Homo sapiens: one gene and its partners. The protein of the gene in region 2 purifies or fractionates together with the protein of the main gene of each other region. This does not show direct contact. Each region holds a gene or a part of one and is shown on either strand. Other genes may lie near its edges.

What was found.
Region 1: the proteins of DDX20 (region 2) and CPSF7 purify together in Homo sapiens (affinity purification with mass spectrometry; one large-scale study listed by BioGRID and IntAct). This does not show direct contact.
Region 3: the proteins of DDX20 (region 2) and LSM11 purify together in Homo sapiens (affinity purification with mass spectrometry; 2 studies listed by BioGRID and IntAct, with this or other methods). This does not show direct contact.
Region 4: the proteins of DDX20 (region 2) and WRAP53 purify together in Homo sapiens (co-immunoprecipitation; one study listed by IntAct). This does not show direct contact.
Region 5: the proteins of DDX20 (region 2) and PHAX purify together in Homo sapiens (affinity purification with mass spectrometry; 2 studies listed by BioGRID and IntAct, with this or other methods). This does not show direct contact.
Region 6: the proteins of DDX20 (region 2) and USO1 purify together in Homo sapiens (affinity purification with mass spectrometry; 2 studies listed by BioGRID and IntAct, with this or other methods). This does not show direct contact.
Region 7: the proteins of DDX20 (region 2) and HDAC11 purify together in Homo sapiens (affinity purification with western blotting; one study listed by BioGRID and IntAct). This does not show direct contact.

Annotation. Positions count from the first base shown.
Region 1 is NC_000011.10:61,412,976-61,416,475, forward strand, and holds part of CPSF7 (cleavage and polyadenylation specificity factor subunit 7), read right to left. Parts: coding exon 3,130-3,500; intron 2,810-3,129; coding exon 2,691-2,809; intron 1-2,690.
Region 2 is NC_000001.11:111,762,401-111,765,900, reverse strand, and holds part of DDX20 (probable ATP-dependent RNA helicase DDX20), read right to left. Parts: intron 3,225-3,500; coding exon 3,119-3,224; intron 2,996-3,118; coding exon 2,894-2,995; intron 165-2,893; coding exon 1-164.
Region 3 is NC_000005.10:157,746,712-157,750,211, forward strand, and holds part of LSM11 (U7 snRNA-associated Sm-like protein LSm11), read left to right. Parts: intron 1-3,500. UniProt on the Homo sapiens protein: Component of the U7 snRNP complex that is involved in the histone 3'-end pre-mRNA processing. Increases U7 snRNA levels but not histone 3'-end pre-mRNA processing activity, when overexpressed. Required for cell cycle progression from G1 to S phases.
Region 4 is NC_000017.11:7,694,977-7,698,476, forward strand, and holds part of WRAP53 (telomerase Cajal body protein 1), read left to right. Parts: intron 1-3,500. UniProt on the Homo sapiens protein: RNA chaperone that plays a key role in telomere maintenance and RNA localization to Cajal bodies. Specifically recognizes and binds the Cajal body box (CAB box) present in both small Cajal body RNAs (scaRNAs) and telomerase RNA template component (TERC).
Region 5 is NC_000005.10:126,607,447-126,610,946, forward strand, and holds part of PHAX (phosphorylated adapter RNA export protein), read left to right. Parts: intron 1-917; coding exon 918-1,038; intron 1,039-3,500. UniProt on the Homo sapiens protein: A phosphoprotein adapter involved in the XPO1-mediated U snRNA export from the nucleus.
Region 6 is NC_000004.12:75,731,077-75,734,576, forward strand, and holds part of USO1 (general vesicular transport factor p115), read left to right. Parts: intron 1-3,500. UniProt on the Homo sapiens protein: General vesicular transport factor required for intercisternal transport in the Golgi stack; it is required for transcytotic fusion and/or subsequent binding of the vesicles to the target membrane.
Region 7 is NC_000003.12:13,497,306-13,500,805, forward strand, and holds part of HDAC11 (histone deacetylase 11), read left to right. Parts: intron 1-1,207; coding exon 1,208-1,250; intron 1,251-3,407; coding exon 3,408-3,484; intron 3,485-3,500. UniProt on the Homo sapiens protein: Responsible for the deacetylation of lysine residues on the N-terminal part of the core histones (H2A, H2B, H3 and H4).

The DNA of each region.
Region 1 (3,500 bases), on a different chromosome or scaffold from region 2:
GATGGGTCTTGTTTTATCATCCAGGCTGAAGAGCAGTGGTATGATCATAGCTCACTGCATCCTTGAACTCCTGGGCTCAAGCCATCCTCCTGCATGCCACTTCACCTGGCTTATTTTTCAAAAATTTTTTGTAGAGATGGGGTCTCACTATGTTGACCAGGCTGGTCTTGAATTCCTGGCCTCAAGTGATCCTCCTGCCTGGGCCTCCTAAAGTGCTGGGATTATAGGTATGAGCCACTGTACCTCATGAGACTTTCTAAATAATGTGTATTTCTACAAGTTATTTTTAACCTACCATCAGATGTATGTGTGTATATATATGATATTTACATAAAACATGTATGCGTAGTATATGTATACATTAAAAAAATTATGGCTGGATGCAGTGGCTCACACTTGTAATCCCAGCACTTTGGGAGGCCGAGGTGGGCGGATCACTTGAAGCCAGAGTTCGAGACCAGCCTGGCCAAAATGGTGAAACCCGGTCTCTACTAAAAATACAAAAACTAGCTAGGCAGTGTGGCATGCACCTGTAATGCCAGTTATTTGGGGGGCTGAGGCAGGAGAATTGCTTAAATCTGGGAGGGAGAGGTTGCAGTGAGTCGGGATCAGACCACTGCACTACTCCAGCTTGGGCAATAGAGCCAGACTTCGTCTCAAAAAAAAAAAAAAAAAATTTATGCTGTCATAAAAAACTAGGCCTTTCATTTCCCAACTCTGAGTAATGCCTGGCTCAGGGATAGTGGTCATGGGGCGGGTACCTACACTTTGCTTTTCCAAGCTAAGTCAAGAGCATTAAGGACAAAAGTTAATACAAAGAAAATATGAATTCAGGCAGGGGTCCAGTGAAAATGAAGCCTGGCAGCTTCCTCTGTGCAAGGCAACAAGAACAGAAACTATGGAGAAACTGTCCAGTGGAGGCACAAGAATATGAAGACATCAGCTCCATCCTGGCAGGGAATTTTTGCCTGTTTTTGTAGTATCTTCAATAAGTATTTGTGGTTTGAATGACTGGAATGAGAACAACAGGAGATCAAGATTCAGTTATTGATCATCTTAGTGTGAAAGGGTTGATGAGGAAGAAGGAACAATGAGTACTTTCTTTATACTGTTCTGTGTATTTAACCCATATAACCCATGGGTATATATTACTTTTTAATTTAAAAAGACTAATTTTTTTTTTTTTTTTTTTGAGACACAGTTTCACTCTGTTACCCAGGCTGGAGTGCAGTGGCACAATCTCGGCTCACCACAACCTCCACGCCCTGGGTTCAAGCAATTCTCAATTCTCGTGCCTCAGCCTCCCAAGTAGCTGGGTCTATAGGCATGTGCCACCATGCCTGGCTTATTTTTGTATTATTAGTAGAGATGGGGTTTTGCCATGCTGGTCTCAAACTCCTGACCTCAAGTGATTTACCGGCCTTGGCCTCCCAAAGTGCTGGGACTACAGGCATGAGCCACTGCACCTGGCCTAAAAAAGACTAATTTAGATGTCAATGTAGATTTTTCTGGTGGGAAAAAAATGAAGGGAACATATGTACTTTCTGTCTTTAACCTTCTCTGTGGATTCAAGTTTGGCAAGATGATGCAAAGATGAAAACTGATGGAAAGCAGATGATAATATTTAGGGCTAACTTATTTCTTAGGAGATCTGATAATCTACAGACATTTACATTCATGTAGGAAACTCACAGGAAGGAAGTGAATATGGCTAATGTCACGATGTGAAAACCGGACCAGAACTCTGAAACTTCCTGTAGCCTCTTCTTTTAGAAACTAAAGATCTTATGCTCAGGGCTTTCAGAATCATGGCTGCTGGTTCTACCCACTTAATAATGAGAGCAGGGCAAAAGTTAGCTGTAAGGGCATAACATGCCTTAAGATGACATCTACAGACTTGCCTCTTTTTAGGATAGGCTACCTACCAGCTCTGCTTAGACTCCTAAATGTAATCAGATTTCATAGCAAACCATTATCTAGGCTGGACGTGGTGGCTCACACCTGTAATCCTAGCACTTTGGGAGGCCGAGACAGGCGGATCACTTGTGGTCAGGAGTTCAAGACCATCCTGGCCAATATGATGAAACCCTGTCTCTACAAAAAAATACAAAAATTAGCCGGGCGTGGTGGCAAGTGCCTGTAATCCCAGCTACTTGGGAGGCTGAGGCAGGAGAATCGCTTGAAACCAGGAGGTGGAGGCTGTAGTGAGCCAAGATTGCACCACTGCACTCCAGCCTGGGCGACAGGGCAAGACTCCCTCTCAAAACAAACAAACAAAAAAACACATTATCCAGTCAAAACATCATTCCTAAAGAAGACCCAGGGTCTATATCTGGTATTGGGTCTACTACACAGACACTAGATCTAAAGATCAACCACTGAGATGGAGATTTCCACAAGGCAGGAATTTCACTCTACAGCAAACACCACATCGAGATGGTATTAATTATTTATATTCTAGGCATTAAGTTGGTTTTCATGAGGGCAGGCCTAGATACAGACTAAGTAATACTGCCGGAGCTTCCCCAAGGCCAAGAAATCAGGTTACATATTGCTCTTCAAAGTATGCCGCTCTTGATATCTACAGTACTCCAACTTTATCTTGTTGAACTTTTGCCAGTAGAAATGACAAAATCAGGAAAAAAAAGTAAAGGTTAAGGAGAAGGCAGCAAAGGTAAGCACTGAGTTACCTGCACTGGCTCCAGATACTGCTTTGGAAATGGCACTGCTGGAAATTGCTCTGTTTCGCTTCATGATATCTTCAAATTCGGCTTCACTCACTGTAGAGGGTGGAGGGCCCGAATCTCGGCTGTACAGAGAAAATACCATCCTTGATTGCTCACATCCCTTATTATTTTTACTGTACTCTACAACACTTTGGTAATTTTGGCATAACACAGAACAATGCTAGACATCTGTAGCATTCATAACACCTGCTCCCGCATTTAATTAAGCACCTTAAAAAGGGGTATAAAGGACATGGTACTACTTCCCAGGAGTCAATGCTATGATAACAGAATGTCTATAAGGGAAAGAACAAGGATTCAGTGCTCACTTTCTCAGGGAGAATAAAATGCTTAATACACTTATTTACCCTGGCTCAAATCTGAAAGGAACAATAGTCCTTACCTGCCATGGTGGTTATAGGGGGCAGAGGCCTTCATGTAAGTATCTGGTGGAGGCCCCACTGTAGCGTTTGGTGGGGGGAAGAAGGCTGGATTGAGGTGAAGGGCAGGTGGGATGGCCCCAGGGGGAGGTACAGCAAGATGAGGAGGTAATCGAGGAGGTGGGGGCATGAGATGCTGGTAGTGGATACCAGGAGGAGGAGGAGGGACCCCAAAGCTTGAGGAGAGAGGTGGTGGGGGTGGAATTGGTGGTGGGGGCAGACCCATCAGGGGAAGGGCCGAAGGAGGACGATTGAAGTAGGGCAGCACACTGGGGGGCTTATCCACACGAGCAGATGAGGGTACAAGGTTCTCAGAGGGTGTGGCCCGTCCATC
Region 2 (3,500 bases):
GTGGTCACCATGAGCTTTCTGAATTTGAAGGGTTCTCTCTATTTTCTGAATTTGCTTTTTTAAGGGTTGGTTAGGTACACTTGCTATACCATATGTATGCACAGCAGCTTTAACTTCCACATCCCAATCCACACATTCTTCCATCAGACCAGAAGGAATGGGATCTACATAAAAAGGAAGAAAAATGTATTAAAATTCTCAAGCTACTCTAGACCACTGTTTTCTGAATGATTTCATAAAGTTTTCTATGATCAAATACATTTAAGAAACAATATGCAAATATACTAAGATGTTTAATAGATATAACATTTTTAAAGACTGAAGCAATCCTGTAATAAAGAAACCTGCCTAAGAAATATGTAAGACCCATCCCATACTCACAAGCACTATCTCCCCTCACTCTCACTAGAAAAAGAGCTTACTCTAGGAGTAATGTACAAGCCTGCAACAATTCTCCCATCTTTTCTCTCCTCCCTCTCCACAGCCCCTCCCCTTTATCTCAATACTTCTGACAGCAAAACAAGATATTAGAAAATGGATTGTGCTCCCCAAAGCTTATCAACTAGGAAATAATACAACTGCAACTCTGTACACCCAACTAAATCTGTCACCCAATATTCCAACAGGGAGAAATCACTGCCCTTAACAATAAAGAGAAAACCTCTATAGGGGAAAAAACTAGATGACTATGAAAAGATCTGTGACTATGAAAATCAGAAATGACATTTCTAATTTTTAAAAAATTTGCTGGCTTCAACCCTCTAAATTTTCTATTCCATCCAGGTGTGACAATTTGCTTCCCACACTCAGACCTTTCAAAGTGTGATCAATTTTTGTCTTAGGCAGACAAGATATATCAAGCCCCTGCTTTACAAAGATCTTGCCTGTTGTTGCTATTTATGCTCCATGTTATCTATAAATCCCACAGGTCTGGATACTTCAATGAAGTCTCTTGATCCTTTGCTGAACAGATTCTATGATTAAAACTCTCATTCCTACTCAGTTGATATCCCTTGCTTGCCTAGTCCTATAATACAGGCCAATTTCCCTCCTAGTTCTGCCCCAGGAAACTCATCTGAACATCTGTTGTTACACAAGTTCCCAGTCCAATACAGACCTAACAGCATGAATATCATTTTCTCATGATTTCAGGGCCCTATTAACATTACATAAAGATCCAAATATATCATTTTCCAGTATCCAAAGGCAATTTTTATCACTAGATGCTATGATATTGAATCCTACAAGAAGTCTTAACCCTCTTCTACCAATTTTCAATTTTTTTCCCATATCAGACTACGAATAGACTTATACACAGAAAGAACTGACAGTTTTAGAACTGACATAGAGCCTAAAGACCATTTACTCTAAAGTACTTTGCAAATCAGGACTCTAAGCTTACAGCAATTACAGAGATTTGTAAAAGATCATAAAATGAGTTATTACTAACCCGATCTACTAGAATACATAGAACTCCCAGATCTGTGCTTAATCTAGCTCTGTAAAATAATTAAATATAAAGTCGGTAAAATACTCAATTATATTTATTCAATAACTACATATCCTATATTCTGCAAAGTCATGTATATACTATATGTGTATTTTTCTTTTTTTTTTTTGAGACTGAGTCTCGCACTTTCGCCCAGGCTGGAGTGCAATGGCGGATCTTGGCTCACTGCAAGCTCCACCTCCCAGGTTCATGCCATTCTCCGGCCTCAGCCTTCCAAGTAGCTGGGACTACAGACACCCACCACCATGCCCGGCTAATTTTCTGTATTTTTTTTTAGTAGAGACAGGGTTTCACTGTGTTAGCCAGGATGGTCTTGATCTCCTGACCTCGTCATCCGCCCGCCTCAGCCTCCCAAAGTGCTGGCATTACAGGCGTGACCTATATGTGTATTTTTCTATATAGACATACATCTATATATGAATAGACACTATTTATAGTGCACATTTTCTGTATAACATGCACGTCAAAAATGCCATATTTCCACTCAAGGGTTTTTTAGAATTTTTTGTTTTTAAGAGATCATTACTAGTTTTAAACATGCGTTGTTTCCAAGAGGGCACTTAAAAAGAAGCAGAACAAATGACTGAACTGAAATCAAAAGAAAACATTTCACTCCAATTTTTCAAAATAGTATTCAAATTAAAGATGCTGTTCTTTCCACATGGTGACAAAGGAGAATATGGCAAGAATTACCTTCACAACAATTTAAGAGGTAAAATATCCCCCCTTGTATCAAAGAATAAAATCAAATTGCAAAGCCACTAACTAATAAAATAGAGCTAACATAGCTCTCATTTTTCTTTCTTTTTTTTTTTTTTGAGACGGAGTTTCACTCTTGTTGCCCAGGTTGGAGTGCAATGGCTTGATTTCAGCTCACTGCAACCTCCACCTCCTGGGTTCAAGCGATTCTCCTGCCTCAGCCTCCCAAGTAGTTGGGATTACAGGCACCTGCCACCACGCCCAGCTAATTTTTGTATTTTTAGTAGAGAAGAGGTTTCACCACATTGACCAGGCTCGTCTTGAACTCCTGACCTCATGTGATCCACCTGTCCTGGCCTCCCAAAGTGCTGGGATTACAGGCGTGAGCCACTGCGCCTAGCCAGCTCTCATTTTTCATGTGCCAGTGGTTAGCTTGCACTCCTCTCCGTGCTACTTACTAGCTGTAACACCTTTACTTACCCTCTCTATGTCTAAATATCCTCATCTACAAAACAATTGCACACACCTCATAGGAGTGTGGTGAGAAGTAAATGAGTTAACGTACATACAGGACTGGGAACAGTACCCAGCACATCATAAGCACTCTGTTAGCTATTATTATCATTTTTATTATGCTTATCACCACTATAATTATTTTGAAATAATGAAACAGATGAAATGTACCTGGTAAAGGGAGAAGGTTGATATTACATTTCTGGGCAATTCTCATCATCATATTTTCTTCCTCTCCCCGGCAACAGTAGGTCACTGTCAGCCCCAATGTACCTAAAAGCAGAGAGAATGTTAGGTAGTAAATCATTTTCACAAAAATAATATTCAAAGCCCACCTGTCACATTATAGATCCCTCCCCTTAAAGAAAGCACTCAAACTTTTTTTTTTTTTTTTACCAAAACGGCCAGCTCTCCCAATCCGATGCATGTATGTCTCCCAATCCAATGGTACATCCAGATTTACAACCAGATTCACCTTCTCAGCATCAATCCCACGAGAAGTCTTGAATTGAAGAAGATAGCAATTATTTGTTTGCATTAACTATACAGCATGGATACCAATGCATATTATATTCTTCCAGTACAGTCAAGAGACAAATTAAGAACTGAATACTGAGGAGCAGAGGAAAAGGAAATTCATTCCTAATGACTAATTTCAAGGACAAAGATAAACATATTAAAGACATTTTTAAGAAAGTATTTTCCTCAGCACTGGAAAGATAATTATCTTCTGGTATTCTTGTTAGATACGCCTACATAAAATAATATATGAAATCTG
Region 3 (3,500 bases), on a different chromosome or scaffold from region 2:
CCAGCCTGGCCAACGTGGTGAAACCCTGTCTCTACTAAAAATACAAAAATTAGTTGGGCATGGCAGCATCTGCCTCTAGTTCCAGCTGTTCAGGAGGATGAGGCACGAGAATCGCTTGAACCCTGTAAGTGGAAGCTGCAGTGAGCCGAGATCATAGGGACATCATAGAGACCTCTACAGAGGTGATACGAGGTCTCAAAAAAAAGTAATAATAAAAGTATAGGAGGCTGTTGCAATACTGGGAATACTAAAGAAGAAAAAAAGCATAGGAGGAAAGGTTTTTCGTCATCATTAAGCCTAAGCCATCACTGATACCAACAAAGAACTCACACACAAGCTGTACTTGCAAGTGGAATGCAATTGCTTTTCCTCCTTTTTAATATTGACATGCCTATAGAGATGGTAAGACAAGACTAAAGAGCATTATCCTCTTTTCCACATAATTCTAGTGTCTATATTTCTCCTTAGTATCGCAGCACCATACCTAGCCCACGGTGGTTCTGGTTTATAATTGTGCTTCAAGCAAGCTTTTTCTAGGTATATCTGTCACTGTGAAATGAACTGGTGTGTTCAAGCTCACGTCTTGACATTATAAAGCTGTAAGAAAAAGTGTTATCATTACTTTGTTTTAGCTACAGGTGTGTTGGTGTGCAGCCTGTGCCGGTGTGAACAAGTGTGTGTGGTCAATCCAAAATGCATATGACATGCAGGGTTTGGCTCCTAGACCATTGTCTAGGTGAATGGCTTGTCTCCAGTTCCAAATTCAGTTTTCCTGCAGGGAGCCTACACAGTCCTTTTACTCGCACACATCCTGCTGAGAAGGATTTCAAAACAAACCTGATTTATTGGGCCTCTGACGTGATACCATGATTGAAAATTTGTTTGAGTCCTGTTGTTGTAGTTTACTTTGATTGCTGAAATAATTTCCCACAATATGGTGTCTTGATGTTTTCATTTTAATAAAGTGATATTCTTTGGATAACTTTGACTTCACTTCCTGCAAATAAAGAGCAAGAAAATAGGCAAAATCAAGAACATCTGAGCCCTGTGTACAGCAGTAAAATGAACTCTCAAATTTGAACAGCATCTCTGTTACACAGAGGTTGCCAAAAGGGCATGAGTATGACTTACATAAAACCGAGAACAGCGGTACTTAGGCTTCAGAAAAGGCCAAGCTTAAAATTCAGCCTTGTCACTTTTCTCAGCTCATTGCAGCTGTTTCCAGTCAGCTGTCTCCAGTGCAACTAAGGAATAGTCTCAGATGATTTCTGCACCACACTGCTGTGTGTGTGTGTGTGTGTGTGTGTGTGTGTGTGTTTAGGCCAGTTTGACATAGCATCACAATAGGGAAGACACTGATGTGCCTTTGCCGGGTCACTGATTCAAACATTGTACTTTCAATCTGTCATGGCACCCTTCTATAGAATGGCAACTAAAACTATTTTCAGAGAAAAGAGAAAATATTTTTCCATTGCAGACTCATAAGGTGACTGTTACAGTTTGTGGTTTCATTTCTCTGGGCCCTTAATAGGTTATGGAATCTGGGGAGCTGCCTTTGCCCTAATGAGCTAATAACTTTGTATATTTGGAGATATATATGTAGATACAGTTTTGTCCTTAAATCTTTGAATAGGTAGTTGTGGAGGCTAAAGCAACTCCATCTTGAATGCCAGTCCACCATGTTGACTTCTGATTAAACCCAGTTCTGGGAAGGCCTCTAAGATTTCCAATTTATCTGTTGTTTCTTGTGTAAGAGCATGTACTTACTGTAATTCCTGTCCTTACATGAGAACAACCTTGACGTTATCTTACTTCAATTGTCCTACACATCCCTTCTGAATCACCCTTTCCCTGTAGCATATAAGCCCTGCATCTGGGGGTCATGGCACGGGGATCCACCATCTTGTTTTGCCGCCACCTGAGACGCAGACGTGGCTTCTGTTCCTACATTCCTATTAAATATTTCTTTCTAAGGAAAACAAGAGTTACTGTAAGAGGCAAGTTTTAGGTCTTTAAAGAAGGGCATGATTGAGAACAGTTATTTTAAAATCAGGCTGTGATGGTATAATTTACATGTAGCAGGAGAAGGAAGAGTGGAGCTGAAAATGACCTGGATCTGGAAGGATGTGGCAATAGAGAAGGGGATTGGAAGAGTAACTTTCTCCAAAGATAAGGCATATGCTTTTTTGTCATATTTGGTCATAGAAACCTGACTCATATCCATTTGGAGCTTGCCACAGAGACGGCTGGAAAGAGAATGTGCACTCTGATTCAGAATGGGGAGCTCATTTTTGCCTTGGCGGTTTGCTCTGATAGGTGGTGCTAGTGTCGTACTTTTGATCACACAAGGATACAAGGAGAGCAATGCTTCCTGGAATTACACCTTATTAAATCTTTGGAAGAAAAAAATTAAAGGTACACGTTTGAGAAAGACCAATTGAAAGACCTGAATTTGCCATCTATTTAATTAGAGTAAGAGACTGTTGCTAAGATACCTGCTTGCCCTTTCTATTTTTGGAGGTGTGGGAAAGAAGTAATGTCCCTGTTTTTTTCCAAGTTAGAAAAAAATAGTCTTTCCACTCTTTGTATAAACATACATCATAGGGCAGGGGGCAGTATATATGTATGTGTAGGAAAAGAAATAATGCAAGCATGTGATCAGTTTCTAAGAAATTGAGTTATTGGGACTTAGTCCTGAAATAAATCTACAAGTTAACTATCTTAACCTCATTTTATGAATGAGGAAATTTGGAACTTAAAGAAAAAGTTATTCATCAGGTTCACACAACTAGTTATAATGACCTGAAAATTGTTTACAATGCTTGAATGCTTGATTTAATATGGCCTATAACACATATACACGCGCGCGCACGCGCGCACACACACACACACACACCCACACACCCATACACACCCTTAGCTAGCAAATGTACAAAGGACTTTAAAATACTGCTAGAAGAGAGGTAAATGATGATGGTCAGACCAGAATTCTCATGGTCTTTTCCAAAGTCACTGCTTCGTGTCGCTTCCAACTCCGAGTTATTCTCACACCGTTAATCTGACATAAACTCCTGCTAGTCTGCTAAGTCATTTTCTTCTAAGAATCTTTTATTAATTTATCACAGCCATCATTTATAAGCCAATCCATGACAGAGGGATAAGGTGGCTTCAGGAGGAACCAATTTAGTTATCCAAACTGAAGTGCAGGACTGTTGTTCTCCTTTATGTCACTAGAAACAAAGCAGGAGAGATTTTTCATTTGTCTACTGTCAATGCCAAATACTCTATATATCCAGACTTCTAAGACCTGACCAAAAATAAACTTTCTACAGAATTTTGCGTTGCAAACTTGGGAAAGAGTGAGACTGTGTACGCACGAGAAAGAGAGAGAGATTGGGGGTGCGTAGTGCGTGCCTGTAGTCCCAGCTACTCAGTGGGTTGAGCTAGGGGGATCGCTTGAGCCAGGGAGGTCAAGGCTGGAGTGAGCTGTGATTGTGCCA
Region 4 (3,500 bases), on a different chromosome or scaffold from region 2:
GAGTCTTGCTGTGTCCCCCAGGCTGGAGTGCAGTGGCGCGATCTCAGCTCACTGCAAGCTCCGCCTCCCGGGTTCACGCCATTCTCCTGCCTCAGCCTCTCGAGTAGCTGGGACTACACGCACCCACTGCCACCACGCCAGGCTAATTTTTTGTATTTTTAGTACAGTCGGGGTTTCACCATGTTAGCCAGGATGGTCTCGATCTCCTGACCTCGTGATCCGCCCGCCTTGGCCTCTCAAAGTGCTGGGATTACAGGCGTGAGCCACTGCACCCGGCCTTAAATAGATAAAATTTGTATAGGTCAGAAAATTGGGGAAGGGTGTATTTGGGTATTTCCATATACTTGTGTGTACTGAGTCTTCTTCCCAATATAGTTTCTCGGGTTTTCTCCTTTCTTTTCCACCTTTTCACAGAACTTTCTGCAAGTCTCATTTCCAGCTCCCCAGCGTCTTTCCTGAGTACTTGCCCTGCCCCGTGGGTCTTGCAGGAAGCCTTTACTCCTCGTCTTGCCCTCTCCAGGAGACACTTTGCATCCTCTGTACCCTTTATCTCTCAGGGTGGGGACGGGGAATGTCCTCATTCCCAAATGCTGTAGCCACACAATTGCTCTTTCGTCTTTGTGAAACTTTTCCCTTGAGGCTTATGCTGATTCTCTCTCCCGCTGACGACGTTGGCACTGTACAGCCTTCCGGTGCTCTCCTGTTCGCCCGCCATTTTGGTGACCTCAGGTATCCAAGCCAAAAGCCAGGGTCTCTCTCATCCTTTAATCTTTAATCTCCCTGTTCCTAACCCCTCACATCCAATTACTTCCCAAATCCCATCAAGTCTGCCTAATCTTCCTAATCCACCCACATCTGTCCCTCCCACTGCCTCTACTTTAATTCAAGGTCCTATTATTTTGGGCCTTATGTTGCTGAAACAGTCTCCTGCCTCCTTTTGCTCATTAAAACCGTATTTGTTGACTCTGCTTATTCTGCACCACGTGTTGGGGAAGCAGTGGTGAGAGCGAGGCAGATGTGATTCCCTCCTTCTCTGATAGGTATGACGGAAGGGGAGTGAGGAGCACCAGGGGCTATAGGAAAGAGGAACAGGGGCGCCTTGCTTAGCTGGAGGGGTTAGGGAAGCGTTCCCAGAGGAAGAAGCATCTAAGAGACCTGAAGGATGACTAGGATTCAGCCAGGAGGAGTCGTTGGGGGAGATGAAGGAAGAATATTCCAGACTTGGAGCCTAGGACATGTGAAAGCCAGTGGGTTGAAAGTGTGGCGAGTTGGCACTTTATGGGACCTGAGAGTCAAAATGGCGGGACTCAGAGATTTTTTTTTTTTTTTTTTTTTTTTTTGAAATGGAGTCTTGCTCTGTCGCCCAGGCTGGAGTGCAGTGGCGCGATCTGGGTTCACTGCAAGCTCCGCCTCCCAGGTTCACGCCATTCTCCTGCCTCAGCCTCCCGAGTAGCTGGGACTACAGGCGCCCGCCACCACGCCTGGCTAATTTTTTGTGTTTTTAGTAGACACGGGGTTTCACCACGTTAGCCAGGATGGTCTCGATCTCCTGACCTTGTGATCCGCCCGCCTTGGCCTCCCAAAGTGCTGGGATTACTGGCGTGAGCCACTGCGCCCGGTCAGGACTCAGAGATTTTTATGGGAATTAGCAGATAGAGATAAGCCTTGAGAGGTGGGTCGGGGGTAGCACGTGGTAATGGAAGACTAGGAGGAGGAACTGGCAAGATTTGGTATTGGGTTGGACCAGGAGTGGAAAGGAAGTGAAGAGTGGTAGCAGTCAAGGCTGGTGCTCAGATTTCAGGATTGAGCACTGGTGTGGAGTCCAGGAGGAACAGCAGGTTTGATGGTGGTGGATGCCGGGCCTATTATGGACAAATTGAGTTTGAGGAACCTGTGGGATGATCAAGTGGCACTGTCCACCAGGCAGTTGGATATATGGGTTCAGAGTATAGAGGTGGACACTGAAGTCCTGGCTGGTTGACATCAGCCTGAGGCCCAGAAGACAACTGACGAAGGACAGTGTCCAGACTATTTATCTCTCACAAATCAGTAAGAAAAAGACGGCTGGGCATGGTGGCTCATGCCTGTAATCCCAGCACTTTGGGAAGCCGAGGCAGGTGGATCACCCGAGGTCAGGAGTTCAAGACCAGCCTGACCAACATGGCAAAATCCCGTCTCTACTAAAAATACAAAAATTAGCCGGGTGTGGTGGCAGGCGCCTGTAATCCCAGCTACTCAGGAGGCTGAGGCAGGAGAATTGCTTGAACCTGGGAGGTGGAGGTAGTAGTGAGCCGAGATCGTGCCACTGCACTCCAGCCTGGGGACAGAGGGAGACTCTGCCTCCAAAAAAAAAAAAAGAAAAGAAAAAGAAAAAAGAGAAGAAAAGAAAAAGACAACAACTGGTCAGGCATGGTGGCTCACACCTGTAATCCCCACTTTGGGAGGCCGAGGTAGGCAGATCACTTGAGGCTGGGAGTTTGAGACCAGCCTGGCCAACATGGTGAAACCCCATCTCTACTAAAAAGTATAAAAATTAGCCGGGCGTGGTGGCAAATGCCTGTGGTCCCGGCTCCTTGGGAGGCTGAGGCATGAGAGTCGCTTGAACCCAGGAGGCAGAGGTTGTAGTGAGCCAAGATCGTGCCACTGCACCCCAGCTTGGGGAACAGAGAAAGACTCTGTCTCAAAAAGAAAAAAAAAGAAAAAGAAAATGGGCAAAATTTATGAAAAGGTGTACCTAACTAAATGGCCAGTAAACATAGAGGAAATATCTAATCTCTCTTATAGTAATGATGGAAATACAAATTTATGCTGTAATGAAATACCATTTCACCACCTTCAAATTGAGAAAAATGTAAAAGTCTGGCAATACCAAGAAGATAAAGAACAATAGACACTTTTTTTTTTTTTTGGAGACAGGATCTTGTTCTGTTGCCCAGGCTGGAGTGCAGTGGTGCGAACATGGCACACTGTAGCCTCAAACTCCTGGGGTCAAGCAGTCCTCCTGCCTCACTCTCCCAAACAGGTGGGACTACAAGTATGCCAATATGCCTGACTAATTTTTTAATTTTTTGTAAAACTGGGGTCTTGCTATATTGCCCAGGCTAGAATAGAGACTCTTATACACTGCTGGTGGGAGAGGACATTGGGACAAGTGCTTTGGGAAAGAAATTGACATTATAGTATCTTACAAAGTTTGCAAAGTGCATAGCGTAGAGACCAGTAATTTTACTCTTCAGCAGAAACTGTAGAGAAACCCTTCTACATGTGTACAGAATGTTAAAGCACACTAGCCAAAAAACAGAAAAACATCAGTGATTCTAAATAGAAGAAGGGTAGATCAGTTTGAATATATTCATGAGTAGAGTACTATACACCAGTGAAAATGCATGAATTAGAGCAAAATGTGTTTCCATGGTTAAAGCTTGCTATCACAGAGGGATGTATATGATATAATACCATTACTGTTAAGTCTAGGCCGGGCATGGTGGCTCATGCTTGTA
Region 5 (3,500 bases), on a different chromosome or scaffold from region 2:
GGAGTGCAGTGGTGCCATCTTGGCTCACTGCAACCTCTGCCTCAGCCTCAGGGTTCAAGCAATTCTCCTGCCTCAGCCTCCCAAGTAGCTGGGATTATAGGCATGTGCCACCACACCCAGCTAATTTTGTATTTTTTGTAAAGACGGGGTTTCTCCACGTTAGTCAGACTGGTCTCGAACTCCCAACCTCAGGTGATCCACCCACCTCGGCCTCCCAAAATGCTGGGATTATAGGTGTGAGCCACCACACCCAGCTGAATTCTTGATCTGTTGAGAGTGTGAGCTTTGACACTGGAAGAATTACTTAGGCTACCTATGTTTCTAACCTCTCAGTGACAAAATGAAAACGATAGTACCTATCTTGTACATTCTTGAGAGAATCAGCTGGCATAGTGCATGTAAGGTTCTTAGGATTGTGCTTATTATAATCATAATAAGCCATCAGTAAATATTAGCTGTTTCTATTTTTTGTTCTGAGGCAGGGAGTCTATGAGGGAAAGGTCCTATCCCATTTTAAAGCTCCAGACATCTCTGGAATTATGTGAGCCTTAGCTTTTAGGCGTAATAATTGAAAGTATATATGTCTGTTATTTATTTTGACAATAGTGGACTGCCTTTATCATCTTTTGCATTCAGACCTGCATTCATCGTGCTGCATGTGCATTTTGAAATCTGCTATAATCCAATAAGACAAATAAGCCAATTATGAGAGTTTAGATGGAAACTTGAGGTTACCATCTCCTTCTGTGACCCAAGATTAGGAATATTTACATGTCAGTGATTCCAAGATTAAATATTGAAGATTTAGAAAACCAAAAGTTACTAGAATCAGATTTTTATTCTAGCTGGTGACTAAGGTAGATTTCTTCAACTTTGTACAACAAACAAAGAGGATAATTTTACTTGTTTCTCATCAGGTTACAGGAACCAAAGAAAGACCTGATAGCCCGAGTAGTGAGGATTATTGGTAACAAAAAGGCAATTGAACTTCTGATGGAAACCGCTGAAGTTGAACAAAATGGTGGTCTCTTTATAATGGTAAGACTGCTTAACTGTTTTTGTTTTTGTATTGTTTATCCTGTGTTTTTGTTTTTGATTACAAATTTAACTTTGCCCTTGTTGGATCTGTGATTTATCATGCATTCTTACAGTATGTTTGAAGTTTTTAAACTATTATCAACAATGAAGACTGTTAAAAAAAAATTAGTTGCCAGGCACGGTGGCTCAAGCCTGTATTCCTAGCACTTTGGGAGGCTGAGGCGGGCCGATCACCTGAGATCGGGAGTTCGAGACCAGCCTGACCAACATGGAGAAACCCTGTCTCTACTAAAAATACAAAATTAGCCAAGCGTGGTGGCACATACCTGTAATCGCAGCTACTCAGGAGGCTGAGGCAGGAGAATCACTTGAACCTGAGAGACCAGAGGTTTCAGTGAGCTGAGATCGCACCCTTGCACTCCATCCTGGGCAACAGGAGCGAAACTCCGTCTCAAAAAAAAAAAGAATAAAAAGAAAAAAAAATTAGTACAGTTGTTTTTGCAGTTAGTACTTCCCTGACAAAAAAACAAACAAACAAACATAAATTATAGCCTGTTGCCGTATAGTCACCAAAACATTTCTTACATGATTTGTTAAAGGTAGGGGTTGAATTTTTTTTTTTTTTTTTTTTTTTGAGAAGGAGTCTCGCTCTGTCGCCCAGACTGGAGTGCAGTGGCGCAATCTCGGCTCACTGCAACCTCCGCCTCCCGAGTTCAAGCAATTCTCCTGCCTCAGCCCCCCAAGTAGCTGAGATCACAGGCATGCACCACCACACCCGGCTAACGTTTGTATTTTTAGTAGAGACGGGGTTTCACCATGTTGCCCAGGCTGGTCTCAAACTCCTGACCTTAGGCAATCCACCCAGCTCGGCCTCCCAAAGTGCTGGGATTACAGGCGTGAGCCACTGCACCCGGCCAAAGGGTTGAAGTTTTAAGACGACAAAGTCTAGGGGAGCCTAGGAGCTCAGATCTTGAGAATATGGGTTTTAGAGTTTGGGTACCCTTTTTTACTTCTAGATTTTCAACATACTAATTGAAATTCGGCTAAGTTGTTTGACTTCTTGGAGCCTCAGTCTCCTCAGCTGTAAAATGGAGATTAGTCCTACATTTTAAGGATTAGAGGAGATGGTGCACATGAAATACTGACCACAGTGCCCAGCACTTTAGCAATGGTAAACAGAAGTGTTCATTTTGGTTCACTTAATTCATGCATTCTTGAAAAAGAGGGCAAAAAAAAAAAACAAAACACCCTTTTTTTTGTTTGTTTGTTTTTTGAGACGGAATCTCACTCTGTCGCCCAGGCTGGAGTGCAGTGGCACGATCTCAGCTCACTGAAACCTCCATCTCCCGAGTTCAAGCAATTCCCCTGCCTCAGCCTCCCAAGTATGCTGGGACTATAGCCTGCCACCACGCCCAGCTAGTTTTTGTATTTTAGTAGAGGCAGGCTTTCACCATGTTGCCTAGGCTGGTTGAGAACTCCTGAGCTCAGGCAATCCGCCTGCCTCGGCCTCCCAAAGTGCTGGGATTACAGGCTTGAGCCACTGTGCCCGGTCAACACTTTTGTTATGTAAGCACAGATAGATACACAATAAAGTACAAATAGGTATACAGTATTTTTGTGTGTATTAAAATTTCCTGGGTATAAGAATGAAAGTTGGGGGAAGTCTAAAAAGTTCCTGGGGTGGTAGAGCAATAATGGGAGAAAAGTTTGAGAAGCTCTTTACTGTTTCAGAATGACAGAAAGAGCTCCTCTGGCTAGGCCAGATCACGAGCACTGGCGGTTATAGAAGGGTTTGGCATATCTCATTGAATTCAGCTTTCACCACAGGGTGAGGATGAAGGTTTGAATGACTTCCTTGTTTTTTGTTACTGATAAGTCTGAATACTGTAATAACATCACAAGGGAGTAGATCAATATTGTGCTTTGGACATGGGGAGAAAAAAAACCCAGTTAGGATTAATAGCATTGGCTAAGGAAACAGCCTGTGAACATAAATTACAGAAGTCAAAACAGAAGTTAGCAACAAAAGAAATTATAATAATCATGAATGCACTGCCATCCCTATTTGTGTCATTGTTAAAGTACTTCAATTTTCATTCAGTTGAACACAGAGTTACAGATTTCATCAATATTTTAGTACTGTAGTGATAAAACTTTATATTCCAGTGAGCTAATGCAGATTTACTGAATATTGGGAAGATGCAAGTTCAAATTTACTTTCTTATTTTATTTTATTTTTTGAGACACAGTCTGGCTCTCTTGCCCAGGCTGGAGTACAGTGGCGCGATCTCAGCTCACTGTATCCTCCACCTCCCAGGCTCAAGCCATCCCCCACCTCAGCCTTCTGAGTAGCTGGGATTGCAGGTGCGTGCCACCGCGCTTGGCTAATTTTTTGTGTTTTTAGTAGAGATGGAGTTTTACCATGTTGCCCAGGCTGGTTTTGAACTTGTGAGCTCAAGGAA
Region 6 (3,500 bases), on a different chromosome or scaffold from region 2:
ATATTACTTGGCTGACTTAAGGTAACTATAATGGAAATGGATTCATTGGATTTGTCTACAAAGAGACTTGTGTTTGATTTTTTAATGTTCCCACATCTCTTTTTATAGATTATAATAATTTAGGTCATATGAAGATAAGATTTGCTTTTGCTGTTTTAATAAAGTCTTCTCAGTAACAGAGTTAAATTTAAAACAAATTTCTGGGCCAGGCCTGGTGGCTCACGCCTGTAATCCCAGCACTTTGGTAGGCTGAGGCGGGTGGATCACCTGAGGTCAGGAGTTTGAGACCAGCCTGGCCAACATGACGAAACCCTGTCTCTGCTAAAAATACAAAAATTAGCTGGACATGGTGGCAGGTGCCTGTAATCCCAGCTACTAGGGAGGCTGAGGCAGGAGAATCACTTGAACCCACGAGGTGGAGGTTACAATGAGCCAAGATCGCACCACTGCACTCTAGCCTGGGCAATGGAGTGAGACTCCGTCTCAAAAAAAAAAAAAAATGACTTTTGTAATCTAAAACAATAATATTTTTATTTCATCTAAAACATAAGTGAATTGACTATTAGCATGAATTATTTGTCTTACAGTTAGGGAAATTCTGTTTTAGGAAGGTACAACTATGTTTTAAATTTCAAGGTAAGATTATATCATAAAATTAAATCAATATTAGGTGCTTGACAAATATTTGTTGGATAAATGATTGATTGATTAGAGTTAGCATTTTAATTGCCATTCCTGTTCTTTATTTTTTCCTGTCAGTTAAGTAGTTACTGAATACTTAAAAAAAAGAATTGTGAAAAAATACTGCAAGCTGTATTACACTAGTGTCCTTTAATTTTTTTGCTTTTATATTTTTATAAACGATTAAACGTAAATTAGTATTGTTTCATAAGCAAATGTGTTTATGAAAATAAACATTTCTCTAAACAATATTTTTTCCCCATAACTTTAAAGTTTTAGAAGGTTACATGTGCAAGTTGTTACATGGGTAAATTGCCTGTTGCTAAGGTTTGATGTATAACCATCACCCAGGTAGTGAGGATGGTACCTGATGGGTAGTTTCTTAACTCTCGCCCCCTCTCCCACCTTCCCCCCGTTGTTGTCCCCAGTGTTGACTGCTCCCATCTTTAGGTCCGTGCTTACTCATTGTTTAGCTCCCACTTGTAAGTGAGGAAATGCAGTATTTGGTTTTCTGTTCCTATATTAATTCGCTTAGGATAATGGCTACCAGCTGCATCTATGTTGCTGCAAAGGGCATGATTTTATTCTTTTTCATGTCGACATAGTATTCCATGGCATATATGTACTGCATTTTCTTTATCCAGTCCACTATTGATGGACACCTAGGTTGACTCCACATCTTTGCAGTTGTGAATAGTGCTCCAGTGAATATGCAAGTGCATATGGCTTTTTGATAGAATGATTTATTTTTCTTTATTTTCCCTTATTTCATTAAAAACATTATAATTGAAATGACTATTAGCATGGATTATTTTAGTCTTACAATAAATAGTCATAGTTACTGGACGCAGTGGCTCAAGCCTGTAATCCCAGCACTTTGGGAGGCTGAGGCGGGCAGATCACGAGGTGAGGAGATCAAGACCATCCTGGCCAACATGGTGAAACCCCGTCTCTACTAAAAATACAAAAATTAGCTGGGCATGGTGGCACCTGTGCCTGTAATCCCAGCTACTTGGGAAGCTGAGGCAGGAGAATCACTTGAACCAGGGAGTTGGAGGTTGCAGTGAGCCAAGATCGCGCCACTGCACTCCAGCCTGGCGACAGAGCGAGATTCCATCTAAAAAAAAAAAAAAAAAAAAAAGTCATAGTTGGGGGAGTTCTGTTTTAGGAATGTTTTAAGCTTCATGAAGGTAAGGTTATATCATAAAATCACGTCTGTAGGGCCGGGTGCGGTGGCTCATGCCTATAATCTTAGCACTTTGGGAGGCCGAGGCGGGCAGATTACAAGGTCAGGAGTTCGAGACCAGCCTGGCCAATATGGTGAAACCCCGTCTCTACTACAAATACAAAAATTAGCCGGGCGTGGTGGCGGGCACCTGTAGTCCCAGCTACTTGGGAGGCTGAGGCAGGAGAATAGCTTGAACCCAGGAGGCAGAGGTTGCAGTGAGCCGAGATCACGCCACTGCAGTCCAGCCTGGGCAACACAGTGAGACTCTGTCTCAAAAAAAAAATTAAAAAAAATAAATTAAGTCTGTATTAGCTGCATGACAAATATTTGTTGAAAAAATACAGTAGTGAGACTGCTGGGTCGAATGGTAGTTCTGTTTTAAGTTCTTTGAGAGATATCCCAACTGCTCTCTACAGTGACTGAACTAAAATTACATTCCCACCAACAGTATATAGCATTCCCTTTTCTCTATAACCTCTCTAACATCTGTTTTTTGTTTGTTTGTTTTGTCTTTTTAATAATAGTCATTCTGACTGGTGGGAGATGGTATTTCACTGTGGTTTTGACTTGCATTTGTCAGATGATTTAGTGGTGTGGAACATTTTTCCATATATTTCTTGCCTATGTATATGTATTGTTTGGAGAAGTGTCTGTTCATGTCCTTTGCCCATTTTTTAAGAGTTTTTGGTTTTTGCCTGTTGAATTAAGTTCCTTACAGATTCTGAATATTAGACCTTTGTCAGATGCATGGTTTGCAGATGTTTTCTCCCAGGTTATAAGTTGTTTGTTTACTCTGTTGATAGTTTCTTTTGCTGTGCAGAAGCTCTTTAGTATAATTAGGTCCCACTTGTCAATTTTTGTTTTTGTCACAATTGCTTTTGGGCACTTAGTCATAAATTCTTTGCCAAGGCCAATGTCCAGGATGATATCTCCTAGATTTTCTTCGAGGATTTTTTTTTTTTTTTTTTTTTTTTTTGAGTAGGAGTCTGGCCCTGTCACCCAGGCTGGAGTGAGTGCAATGGTGCGATTGGCTCACTGCAACCTCTGCCTCCCGGATTCAAGCGATTCTCCTGCTTCAGCCTCCCAAGTAGCTGGGACTACAGATGCACACCACCACACCCAGATAATTTTTGTATTTTTAGTAGAGACAGGGTTTCACCATGTTGGCCAGGATGGTCTCGATCTCCTGACCTCGTGATCCTCCCACCTTGACCTCCCAAAGTGCTGGGATTACAGGCGTAAGCCACCATGCCCAGCCTCTTCTCGGCTTTTTATAGTTTTAGGTCTTATATTTATGTCTTTAATCCATCTTGAGTTAATTTTTGTATATGGTAAAAGGTAAGGGCCCAGTTTCATTCTTCTGCATAAGGCTATCCAGTTATCCCAGCACCATTTATTGGATAGGTAGTCCTTTCTCCATTGCTTGTTACTGTCAATTTTGTCAAAGATCAGATGGTTGTAGGTGTGTGGCTTTAGTTTTGGGTTCTCTATCCTGTTCCATTGCTCCATGTCTGTAATAGGCTGTTTTGGTTAGTGTAGCTTTGTAGTATAGTTTGAAGTGGGGTAGTGTGATTTTTCCAGCTTTGTTCTT
Region 7 (3,500 bases), on a different chromosome or scaffold from region 2:
GTAGCTGGGACTACAGGTGTTCGCCACCATGCCTGGCTAATTTTTGTATTTTTAGTAGAGACGGGGTTTTACCATGTTGGCCAGGCTGGTCTTGAACTCCTGACCTCAAATGATCCACTCACCTTGGCCTCCCAAAGTACTGGGATTACAGGCTTTGAGCCACCATGCCCAGCCCTAATGCACCCAAAATTAAGATGGAGAACTGATCCTCCATGACTTCAGTGATGAATAAGCCTCCACGTCTCCCCCACTGCGGGTGTGGCAACAAAGAATCCCCACAGCAAAATTAGGTTTCACATTGTGTGTGTGGTTTTTTTAAAAAAATGTGCCACACACTGCCTAGTTATTTGGAGATAGAGGAATGTTTCACATGCAAATGTATGAGGATCTAACCCAGCCCTGGATCACTACCTACTGATCCCCTACAGTTCTGTTATGTTTGTAAATTTGTACTTTTTCCTTTAGCTTAGTAGAATATTACTGCCCATCCCCAAAACTATGATTTCCTGGAAGATTTCAGTATTTAGTCTACTATATTTCTTTTTTTGCTTTTTTTTTTTTTTTTTTTGAGACAGAGTCTCACTCTGTCCTCCAGGCTGGAGTGCAGGGGTGTGACCTTGGCTCACTGCAACCTCTGCCTCCTGGGTTCAAGTGATTCTCCTGCCTCAGCCTCCCGAGTAGCTGGGATTACAGGCACACGCCACTCTGCCTGGCTAATTTTTGTATTTTTAGTAGAGACGGGGTTTCACCATGTTGGCGAGGCTGGTCTTGAACTCCTGACCTCAAGTGATCCGCCTGCCTCGGCCTCCCAAAGTGCTGGGATTACAGGCGTGAGCCACTGCGCCTGGCCCAGTCTACTGTATTTCTGTGAGCAAAACTTTGCCTATTTTCCCTTTGAAAGCCATATCAAAATTATTGTCAGCTCATATGTGATGGATGATAAGTACTTTTATTTTTTCCAGTTTCCTTGCACAATTTCAAAGGTGCTTATGCACTGTACATCTCATATGCCAGCCAAGCTGGCACTTACTTCCTGGACTGTTGCTTGGGGTAGGGAGTTCCTTCTATACCCCTGCCTTGTAGCTCAGCTCATCCTTCCCCCAGAGCTGGCTAGAAGCAGTGTTTATGGAATGAGTGCATGAATCAGTGAATGAATGACTGGTGGATCGGCTGCCTGCGCCCCCTCACCCTCTGCTTGTCTCCAAAGGCGGGGAAGCTGGCTGTGGAGCGAGGCTGGGCCATCAACGTGGGTGAGTGCTGGGAATGTCCTCGGGAATGTCCAGCCCGGCTTGGTGGAACTGGCCTGAAAGGGGGCTGGGGGAGGGCGGGAGGATCCTGGAGGTGGCAGCTGTGAATTCAGAAGCTCTGGTTTTCCCAAGTCACCCTAGCCTCCTTGTGGAGTGGCCTGGAGGTTGATGTGTAGCCTCCTAGGTACCTGGGAGAGACTGACCAGTGCCTCCATCTGACGTGGGATCCTTGTCTAAGGAGGTCCCCGGGTGGTTCCCCAGCCCCCTCTTTGCGTACTTCCGGTGGCAGGGAGCTTCCTCCCTTCCAGAGAGCGTGTGCCATCCTTGGGCAGCTCAGCATGGTCTGAAGCCTGCCTTGTGTCTTCCCTGAAGGACTCCACCTGTGTCCTGGGGCCCAGGACAGCCCACAGAGGCTTGGTCATGTTGGGTTGGGTGGGCACATCCTGGGTCAATACCACCACCTTCTCAAGGGTCCAGAGGGCCCGTGCTCCCCAGCCCCCTTGAATCTCCCACAAGATTGGCTCATGGGAGGGCTGCACGGGAGTCTCCCTTGTCCCTGTCATTGTCCCTCCTGGAGGCACAGCACTTGACAATTTACAAAGCTCTTTTTCACCAGGCTCTTTTTTTCTTTTTCGAGACGTAGTTTCACTCTTGTTGCCCAGGCTGGAGTGCAATGGCGCGATCTCGGCTCACCGCAACCTCCGCCTCCCAGGTTCAAACAATTCTCCTGCCTCAGCCTCCTGAGTAGCTGAGATTACAGGCATGCACCACCATGCCCGGCTAATTTTGTATTTTTAGTAGAGACAGGGTTTCTCCATGTTGGTCAGGCTGGGTCTTGAACTCCCGACCTCAGGTGATACGCCCACCTCGCTCGGCCTCCCAAAGTGCTAAGATTACAGACATGAGCCACCACGCCCGGCCTTCACCCAGACTCTTATTTGAGCTGGGCATAATTGTCAGGCCTGTCTCACTGATGAGGAAATGGCCATGGAAAGATGCGTACTGGATCGTGTAGAGCCCTAAAGCAGGGTCCCCCAGCCTTTGGCTCTGAACTCTGCAGGGGAGAGTCCACCTTGGGCCACTGCACAGTTGAGGGGAGCCCCACTCTGCAGGGGCTGGGTCTCTTCCATCTTGGTATTACCAGGTGCCTAGCATTCAGTCTGGCATAGTAATGATGTTATGGTACTCTGCTGCACAAACCCGGGAGTGATCTGTGCCCTGCGTGTCTACAGCAGGGTTCCGAGGAGGGCCTGGATGGCCCTCCCCATGGCAGGTGTTACTGCCTGGTAGAGGTTAAGAGCCTGGATCCTGATCCACCCTGGGTTTGATCCTGGTTCTGCCATTACCTGGCTGTGTGACCCTGGGCAAGTTGCTGACCTCCTCTGTGGGTCAGTCTCCTCATCTGTAAAATGGGGATGGTGATGCTAATGCCCCTCCTCGGGCTGGAGGGAGTCTTCAGCAAGCTCAGTTGCTCAGTCAGGTGTTCACTGTGGCTGTCTTCTCATCATTAGGAGCCAACAGTAGCCTCCTGGGGGGTGGGAGAGGCAAGTTCCTGGTATCCATGGGGCCAGCTGCACACTGTCTGACGGAGCAGTTGTTGGGCTCAATTTCAGAGGGCCTCTGCAATTCAGGCCATCCCAGGGGCTGCAGGGGAGGGGGTATCTATGGGCCCTAGGGCTCTGAGGCTGTGTCTCAGGGTTGAGGGGTGATGGATCCCGGGCTCTAGGGCCCTCCTCGTGGCTGTAGGCAGTCATGACCAGCAGAGGGTGCCCTTCCTGACCACCCGCTTTGGCCACTGGCAGAATCCGTGTGGCCCCCATACCACCACTCCTTCCTGGAGTGGGGAGCCACATGGAGCCAGGCCCAGCTTGGTGGGGACAAGGAGCAGCTTTCTGCTTCTGGAATGATGAGCTATCTGTTGCTTAGGGGTGTGAGTGGCACTGAGGACTTGCTGGGGACACCCTGAAGATGTGGCTGCCTTCTGGCCTGGGGATGGTGACATGCCCCAGCACTCAGCTTAGTTTGCCAACCCAGAGTCCGAGGCACAGGTTCCTGAGAGCTGAGCAGGGAGGATGCTGGGGGAGGTGAAGGGATGGAGGAGCTCCTGGACTGAGCCTGGGAGCCTGGCTCTGAGCAGCACCGCTCTCTGCCCTTCCGCAGGGGGTGGCTTCCACCACTGCTCCAGCGACCGTGGCGGGGGCTTCTGTGCCTATGCGGACATCACGCTCGCCATCAAGGTGTGTCTATGAGCAA